Linked DNA regions of Homo sapiens. The protein of the gene in region 1 interacts with the protein of each later gene in a pairwise test. Each region holds a gene or a part of one and is shown on either strand. Other genes may lie near its edges.

Region 1 (5,500 bases):
CACCTGAGGTCAGGAATTCGAGATCAGCCTGGCCAGTATGGTGAAACCCCGTCTCTACTAAAAATACAAAAATCAGCCGGGCATGGTGGAGTGCACCTGTAGTCCCAGCTACTCGGGAGGCTGAGGCAGAAGAATCACTTGAACCCAACAGGCGGAGGTTGTAGTGAGCCAAGATCACACCACTGCACTCCAGCCTGGACTCCATCTCAAAAAAAAAAATAAAAACAAAAACAAAAACACAGACAGGGCAAGCATCAGAACCAGACATGATAGGGATGTTGAAGGTATCAGACAAAACTTAAAACAACCATGAATAATATGTTATGGGCTCTAGTGAATAAAGTAGGCAGCATGTAAGAACAGATGGGCAGGCCAGGCGTAGTGGCTCACACCTGTAATCCCAGCACTTTGAGAGGCTGAGGTGGGTAGATCACTTGAGGTCAGAAGTTCGAAACCAGCCTAACCAACATACTGAAACTCTGTCTCTACTAAAAATACAAAAATTAGCTAGGCACGGTGGTGCGCACCTGTAGTCCCAGCTACTCAGGAGGCTGAGGCACAAGAATGGCTTGAACCTGAGAGGTAGAGGCTGCAGTGAGCCCAGATCGCACCACTGCACTCCAGCCTGGGCAAGAAAGTGAGACTCCATCTCAAAAAAAAAAAAAAAGAAATACTAGTGATCAAAAACACTGTACAGAAGTGAAGAATGCCTTTGATGGGCTTATGTATTATGTAGACTGCACGAGATTGAGGAAAAAAATCTTTGAACTTAAGGATGTATCAACAGAAACCTTCAAGCAAAGAGAACACTGGGGAAAAAAAAAAAGAACAGAATATCCAAGATGGACAGCCACAAAAGGTGTAGATATGCACAATGGAAATACCCGAAGGAAAGGAAAAGAACAGAAGAAAGACAGTCGGTGCCTGACGCACAGTGGTTTGACTTAGTATTTTTCAATTTTACAATGGCGCAGAAGCAATACACTTCAGTACGTTCCCCAACTTATGATGAGGCTCCATCTGGATAAACCTATTATAAGTTGAACATATTGTAAGTCGAAAATGCACTTCTGACAAAGAGATTTTCAATTTATGATGAGTTTATCAGGATGTAACCACATCATCAAGTCAAGGAGCATCTATATATGAAACAATAATTACTGAAAATTTCGCTGAAGTAATGTCAGACACCAAATCACAGATGGAGGAAAATCCGAGAATACCAAGAAGATAAATGCCAAAAAACCTGCACGTAGGCATATCATTTTTAAAACACAAAAAATCAAAGATAAGCCAGAGATGAAAAAAAATACCTTACCTACAGAAACCACACAAGCAAGAAAATGGAGTGAAACAGTTAAGGTGTTTAGAGAAAAAAAAATCATCAAAACAGAATTCTGTACCCTGCAAAATTATCCTTCAAAAGTAAAAAAAAGTCTTTCTCAAACAAAAACTAAGATAATTTATTGCTATTTCAAGTAAACTTGCCTTAACTAGGCAGAAAAGGAAAATACAGGTCAGAAACACAGATACACTTTTTTTTTTTTGAGATAGGGTCTTACCCTGTTGCCCAGGCTGGAGTGCAGTGGCATGATCTTGGCTCACTGCAACCCCCGCCTCCTGGGTTCAAGCGATTCTCATACCTCAGCCTCCCAAGTAGCCAGGCCTACAGGCACGCACCACCATGCCCAGCTAATTTTTGTATTTGTAGTAGAGACAGGGTTTCACCATGTTGGCCAGGCTGGTCTCGAACTCCTGACCTCAAATGACCCGCCGGCCTCAGCCTCCCAGAGTGCTGGGATTACAGGGATGAGCCGCCAGGCCCGGCCACAGATATATATTTTAAAAAGTGAGAACATCAAAGAAAGAATAAGTGAAAGTAAAATTAAAATTTTTTTTCTGATCATTTTTTTGAGACGGTCTCGCTCTGTTGCCTAAGCTGGAGTACAGTGGCACAGCAGCCTCGAACTCCTGGGCTCACCTCACCATCTCACCTCCCAAGTAGCTGGGGCTACAGGTGCACACTAGCACACCTGGTTTTTTTTTTAGGTTTTTTTTTTTTTTGTTGTTGTTGTTGTTTTGTATAGGCAAGGTCTCTGCGTTGCCCAGGCTGGTCTCAAACTCCTGGCTTCAGTCTCCCAAAGTGCTGGGATTACAGGCATCAGCCACCATGCCTAGCTATTTTTATTTTGTTGTTGTTGTTGAGTCTCGCTCTGTCGCCCGGGCTGGAGTGCAGTGGCACGATCTTGGCTTACTGCAACCTCTGCTTCCTGAGTTCAAGCGATTCTCCTGCCTCAGCCTCCTGAGCAGCTGGGATTACAGGTGTGTGCCACCATGCCCGGCGCTAACTTTTGTATTTTTAGTAGTGACAGGGTTTCACCATGTTGATCAGGCTGGTCTTGAACATCTGACCTCGTGATTCACCCGCCTCGGCCTCCCAAAGTGCTGGGATTACAGGCCTGAGCCACCACGCCCAGCCATGCCTAGCTATTTTTCTTATACTTAGTTGACCTAGTCTGTTCAAAATAGTAATGGAGGCTGGGCACAGTGGCTCATGCCTGTAATCCCAGCACTTTGGGAGGCTGAGGTGGGTGGATCACTTGAGGTCAGGAGTTCGAGACCAGCCTGGCCAACATAGTGAAACCCTGTCTCTACTAAAAACGCAAAAATTAGCCGGGCATGGTGGCACACACCTGTACTTCCAGCTACTCGGGAGGCTGAGGCAGGAGAATCGCTTGAACCTGGGAGGCAGAGGTTGCAGTGAGCCATGATCATGCCACTGCACTCCAGCCTGGGTGACAGAGTGAGACTCTATCAAAAAAATAAAAAGAAAAAAGGACAATAAAGGAACATCATACTATGTACAATTCTACGTCCACACATTTCATGACCTAGATGAAACAGACCAAATCCCTGAAAGACACAATCTGCCAAAACTGAACAAAAAGAAACAGACACTCTAATAAGCCTAAATTGAATCAAAAATTAAGAATCACCCAAACCAGAAAGTGCCAGGCCAAGATGGGTTCACTCACTGGTGAAGTCTACCAAACATTTAAGGAAAAAAATCACACCAATCTTTTTTTCCCTCTACAATATTTTTCAGAAGATAAAGGCAGAGGGAATCCTAACTCAGTCTATAAAGACAGCATCGCTCTAATACCAAAACCAGACAGAAACCCTAGAAAACTACAGAAAAATTATCTCATAAATATAGATACAAAAATCCTCAACAAAATACTAGAAAATAAAATACAACAATGTATAAAAACAAGTGTACACCACAGCCAAGTGGGATTTATTCCTGGTATGTAAGGTTGGTTCAATACTTGAATCAGTTCCATCGTATCAAATGACTAAAGAAGAAAAAGCATAGATAGATGCAGAAAAAACTTTTTTTCTTTTTTGAGACAGGGTCTCGCTCTGTCACCCAGGCTGGAGTGCAGTGGTGCAAACATGGCTCACAGCAGCCTCAACCTCCCAGGCTCAAGCAATCCTTCCACTTCAGCCTCCTCAGTAGCTGAGACTACAGGCATGTGTCACCACGCCCAGCTATTTTGTTTTTTAATTTTTTGTAGAGATGGGGTCTCACTATGTTGCCCAGGCTGGTCCTGAATTCCTAGGCTAAAGCTATCCTCCTGCCTCAGCCTCCCAAAGTGATTACAGGTGTGAGCCACATCTGGCCCAGAAAAAAAATCTGACAAAATCCAACCCCATTCACAATTAACAACAACAAAAACCCTCACTAAACTAGGAACAAGGGTCTTTCTCAACTTGATAGAGAATATCTACCAAGAAAAATGCTACAACTAACATCATACTTAACTGTGAGAAACTTGAAGCTTTCCCACTAAGATCAACAAGGCAAAATGTATCTTTAATCCCCTCTCACCACTCTTTTTCAACATTGTACTGGAAGTCCTATCTGAGGCAAAAAAACAAGAACAGAAAATACAGGATGAGAATCCCTGTTCCAAAAACCTGAAATCTAAATGCTCCAAAATTCAAAACGTTTTGAGTCCTCACACGTGGAAAATCCCACACATTAACTTAATACAACCTTTGTTTCACACACAAAATTATTTAAAATACTGTATAAAATTACCTTCAGGCTGTACGTATAAAGTATATATGAAACATAAACAAATTCTGTGTTTAGACTTGGGTCCCATCCCCAAGATATCTTATGTATATGTAAATAGTCCAAGATCTGAAAAAATCCAAAATCCAAAACAATTCTGGTCTTAAGCATTTTGAATAAAAGATACTTAACCTGTAAAATGTATAATGACTGTGAAGGAAGGAATAAAACTTTGTTCACAGATGGCATAATTGTGCAAAGTCCAAAAGAATTCACCAGACCCGGCACGGTGGCTCATGGCTGTAATCCTAGCACTTTAGGAGGCCGAGGTGGGCTGATCACGAGGTCAGGAGATCGAGACCATCCTGCTAACACAGTGAAACTCCATTTCTACTAAAAATACAAAAAAATTAGATGGGCGTGGTGGCACATGCCTGTAGTACCAGCTACTCAGGAGGCTCAGGCAGGAGAATCGCTTGAACCCAGGAGGTGGAGGTTGCAGTGAGCCGAGATTGTGCCACTGCACTCCAGCCTGGCCAACAGCGAGACTCTGTCTCAAAAAAAAAAAAAAAAAAAAAAAAAAAATTCACCGAAAGACTCCTGGAACTACATGATTATACCAAGGTTGCAGGATACAAAGTTAATATACAAAAGTCAACCCCTTTCCTGTACACAGGTGTAAGCTGAATTTGAAATAAAAAACACAATACCATTTACAGTAGCACCCACAAAAATTAAATACTTAGGTGTAAGTCTAACAAAATATATAATGATACTATATAAAATCTATATGAGAAAAACTACCAAACACTGCTGAATGAAAACTAAGAACTAGATAGAGAGATATAACATGTTCATGGATAGGAAGACTCAATATTCAAGACTTCAGCTCTTCCCAACTTGATCTACAGATTGAATGCACTGTCAGTTAAAATCCCAGCAAGTTATTTTGCAGATGTTGACAAACTGATTATAAAGTTCAGACAGACAAAAGACTTAGATTAGCTAACAGGATACGGAAGCAGAAGAATACATTTGGGAGAATGAACCTGACTTCAAGACTTATAGGCTGGGCATGGTGGCTCACACCTGTTATCCCACCAATGCTTTGGGAGGCCAAGGAGGAAGAAGTGCTTGAGGCCAAGAGTTGCAGGCCAGCCAGGGCAACACAGTGAGACCCTATCTGTACAAAAAAAAAAAAAAATTTTTAATTAGCCTGATGTGGTGGCATATGCCTGTAATCCCAGCTACTCAGGAGGCTGAGGTGGAGGATCCCTTGAGCCCGGGAGTTCGAGGCTGCAGTGAGTTGTGACTGTTCCACTGCACTCCAACCTGGGCAACAGAGTGAGATCCTGCCTTGAAAAAAAAACAAAAGATTTACTATAAAGACCAGCCTGGGCAACATGGCTAAACTCCATC
Region 2 (4,404 bases), on another chromosome or scaffold:
GGCTCACTGCAAGCTCTGCCTCCCGGGTTCATGCCATTCTCCTGCCTCAGCCTCCCAAGTACCTGGGACTACAGGCGCCCACCACCACACCCAGCTGATTTTTTTTTTCTATTTTTAGTAGAGACAGGGTTTCACCGTGTTATCCAGGATGGTCTCGATCTCCTGACCTTGTGATCTGCCCACCTCGGCCTCCCAAAGTGCTGGGATTACAGGCGTGAGCCACCGTGCCTGGCCGCCCAGGCCTGTGTTTTTGAATATCCAGCAGAACATTAGAAAATGTTGCAGGTCAGTTCACTATGCCGGATTGTCTCACACATTGGAGGAGTGCTTGCGTCATTGTCAGGAACTTCCCCAACCATGGAAAACAAGAAGATGTGCCTATTTCCAAAATATCCTCAGAGTGTGTTAACAGCTTCATCAAGAACCACTGCCCTAAAATATAGAGTGAAAAAAAGAGAAAAGATTACCGGTTTATAAGAGGAAGGGCCTTTTTGCTTCCTATTTATCACAGTCATGAATGTTAAACTTACACCCATACCTAAACAAACACACATGCATGCACACACATGTGCAAACACACACACACAAAGGCTGTGTTTTATTGAGGGCAAATGTGAGAATATATTTTGTTCAGATGTACACTGAGAAGGCAGTGGTGGAAAGTGAAGCAGCAAGTGGCCCTAAACTAGAAGAGCTAGTCAGCCTCTGCCAGGAACTAGCTTGAATCCACAAATGCCACGCTTGTCAGGCCCATCCTGGCTTTGCATCCCCACTCTCTCTCCACCCTCAAGCCTGCCTTTCATTCCCTATCCACTTCCTTCTAGAGTCCCAGTCTCTGCTTCTCACTTTGCTTCATCATCAGTCACATGATGCTTGGGGAATTCTTTAGGGAGATCACTATTTGTTGTAGTGGAGATGCAGAAGAGAGGATGTGCTGATAATTCTCAGAAAGTGTTATGGCTGGTGTTTGAGTCCTATATTATCAAATTTCAGGAATGTTAGAGGCTTAAGTCTGTGTGCTGGCTTAAAGAAAGCATGTTTCAAATTTCAAGAAACTAAATTACTAACAAACTTCTGTAACCTGTTCCTGGGGTAGGAATTGCCAGTTCTCTGAAGTGACTTGAAACAATTTAACAAGTTCAGCCCTGAAATCTACATATGTATATTTTATAATAACCCATATAACTCTTACTGATTCTTACACTTTCCCAGTTCTCTGGTTTTTATCTGGTGCATGTGTTGCAATATGCAAAGGATGACAATCTTATTTTTAACTTTTTATTATTTGTACTTTCCTTTTTGTTTCGTTGTTTTTTGTTTGCTTGTTTTGAGACAGAATCTCACTCACCCAGGCTGGAGGGCAGTAGTGATCACAGCACACTAACTCAAACTCCAGTGTTCAGGCCATCCATCCTCTTGATTCTTTTTGAGTAGCTAGGACTGCAGATGTGCATTGCCATGCCCGACTAATTTTTTTTTCTTTTTAGTTGAAACAAGGTCTCACTATGTTTCCTAGGTTGGTCTTGGCCTCAAGTGATCCTCTCACCTGGGCCTCCTAAGCACTAAGTTTACAGGCATGAGCCACCATGCTGAGCCTATACTTTCCTTTTCTCGACAGATTGAATTAACTAGAACTTTACAGTTGATAATAACACAGATATCTCTGATATCTGTAATAGTTAATGTCATCATATTATTGAGTTCTTTATCTTAAATTAAAACAAATATATATATCCGCAGTGGTCTTCACTACCAAGTCATCAGTAGGGGGGTGATAGTGATGGAGCCATTCTTTACAGAAGGAAATTCCAATGGAATAAAAAATGAGTGTTCTGTTAAACCATTTTCTCTCATTTTCTTTCTTTCTTTTCTTTCTGTCTTTGTCTTTCTGTCTTTCTTTCCTGTCTGTCTGTCTTTCATCTCGATCTGTTGCCCAAGCTGGAGTGCAATGGTGCAACAATTTCAGCTTACTCCAACCTCTGCCTTCTTTGCTCAAGCCATCATCCCACCTCAGCCTCTCCAGTAGCTGGGACTACAGGCATGCACCACCAGACTCAGCTAATTTTTTGTATTTTTTGTAGAGTTGGGGTTTCACCATGTTACCTAGGCTGGTCTCAAACTTCTCATCCCAAGCAATCCACCTCCCTCGGCCTCCCAAAGTCCTGGGATTACAGTCATGTGTCACCACACCCAGCCTTTGTTAAACCATTTTCAATGAAACTGGAAGTCTGTGTTAATTCATACATATGGTGGGTGAGAGAAAGGCTTCCTTATACCACACTGACCCTGCTGATACAACATCTTCCCTCTCTTCTCAGAGACTAGTGGAAAGTCGCCGACAGCAGATCTTGAGGGAGTTTGAAGAGCTTCATAGGCGGCTGGATGAAGAGCAGCAGGTGTTGCTTTCACGACTGGAAGAAGAGGAACAGGACATTCTGCAGCGACTCCGAGAAAATGCTGCTCACCTTGGGGACAAGCGCCGGGACCTGGCCCACTTGGCTGCCGAGGTGGAGGGCAAGTGCTTACAGTCAGGCTTCGAGATGCTTAAGGTTCGACCTTTGCCCCTGCATAGCCCCTCAGGCTGAGTGCAGCGTAGCTTTGCGTAGCCTGGGATTTGTCAGCCTGGGATACTCATTCTTCTGCTCTCCTTCTCTAAATCCAGTTCTTTCTGCCAGGTGTACTCAAAGGGTCTTTGCTACGGAAAAGTGATTTCTCCCATCCCCTTCTAACCATTTTTGTGTTCTTATCTCTGGTCAGCAATTATGTGCTTAATCTGTTCCAAAGAAAAGATTCATTCTTTTGAAAGGAGGGAAGTCTAGCCTGAGTTAGTGAAAAACTATGCATTAAAAATTTTGTAAATGCAGTTACCATTACTTTTAAGTCCTGAAATTTGATTTATGTACTGCTGAAAAAGGACAGAAACATAGTTTAAAGGATACAGGCATACCTCAGAGATATTGTGGGTTCAGTTCCATACCACTTCAATAAAGCGAGTATCTTGATAAAGCAAGTCACATTAATTGTTGGGTTTCCTAGTGGAATCATATTTTTGCTGGTGGAGGGTCTTGTGTTAGTATTGACTGATCGAGGTGGTGGTTGCTGAAGATTGGGGTGACTGTGGTAATTTCTTAAAATAAGACAACGACGAAGTTTACTTTCAACTCTTCCTTTTATGAAAGATATCTCTGAGCATGTGATGCTGTTTAATAGCATTTTACTCACCAGTAGAACTTCTTTGAAAATCTTTGAAAACCCACATTTGCAGTTACTTACAACATGGGAGTCTTGAACCCCTAAAAGTCATCCATAAGGGTTGGAATAGACTTCTTCTAAATGCCTGTTAATATTGATATTTTGGCTTCCTTTCACAAATCACAAATGTTCTTAATGGCATCTAGAATGGTGAATCCTTACCAGAAAGCCTTCAATTTACTTTGCCTAGATCTATCAGAAAAATCACTATTTATAGCAGCTTTATGAAATACATTTATTAAGACTTGAAAGTCCAAATTACTTCTTGATCCATGGGCTGCCGATTGGATGTTGTGTTAGCGGACGTGAAAACAACATGAATCTCATTTTACATCTCTATCAGAACTTTTGGGTGATCAAGTGCATTGTCAGTGAGCAGTAATATTTTGAAAGGAATCTTTTTTTCTGAGCAGTAGGTCTCAACTTAAAATTTTCAGTAAAGGGTTGGGCACGGTGGCTTACACCTGTAATCCTATCACTTTGGGAGGCCAAGGCAGGTGGATCACCTGAGGTCAGGAGTTTGAGACCAGCCTGGCCAACATGGTGAAGCCCAATCTCTACTAAAAATACAAAAAAATTAGCTGGGCATGGTGGTGGGCGCCTGTAATCCCAGCTACTCGGGAGGCTGAGGGAGGAGAATCGCTTGAACCCGAGAGGCAGAGGTTGCAGTGAGCCAAGATCATGCAGTTGCACTCCTGCCTGGGTGACAAGAGTGAAACTCCATCCCCCCAAAAAAAACTTCAGTAAAGGCTAGGCACGTTGGCTCACATCTGTAATCCCAGCACTCTGAGAGATCAAGCCAGGAGGACTGCTTAAGGCCAGGAATTCAAGACCAGTCTGGGCAATATAGCAGGACCCCATCTCTACAAAAGGTAATTTTTTTTAATTAAAAACATTCAGTATACCATGCTGTATACAGGTGTACTGTCATGTAGGCTTTGTTATTCCATTTCTAGAGCACAAGGAAAGTAGATTTAGCATAATTCTTAAGAGCCCTAGGATTTTTGAAATGGTAAGTGAGCACTGGTTTCAACTTAAAGTCACCAGCTGCCCTTGCTTCTAATAAGAAAGTCATCCTGTCCTTTGAAGCTTTAAAGCCAGGCATTGACTTCTCTCGAACTGTGAAAGCCCTGGATAGCACCTTCTTCAATA

Evidence for each region.
Region 2: the proteins of ZNF26 (region 1) and TRIM39 interact in binary tests that used the Homo sapiens proteins (3 or more experiments, as listed by UniProt).

Annotation. Positions count from the first base shown.
Region 1 is NC_000012.12:132,988,195-132,993,694, reverse strand, and holds part of ZNF26 (zinc finger protein 26), read right to left. Parts: intron 1-5,500. UniProt on the Homo sapiens protein: May be involved in transcriptional regulation.
Region 2 is NC_000006.12:30,333,427-30,337,830, forward strand, and holds part of TRIM39 (E3 ubiquitin-protein ligase TRIM39), read left to right. Parts: intron 1-2,318; coding exon 2,319-2,549; intron 2,550-4,404. Other genes in the region: TRIM39-RPP21 protein, read left to right, coding at 2,319-2,549.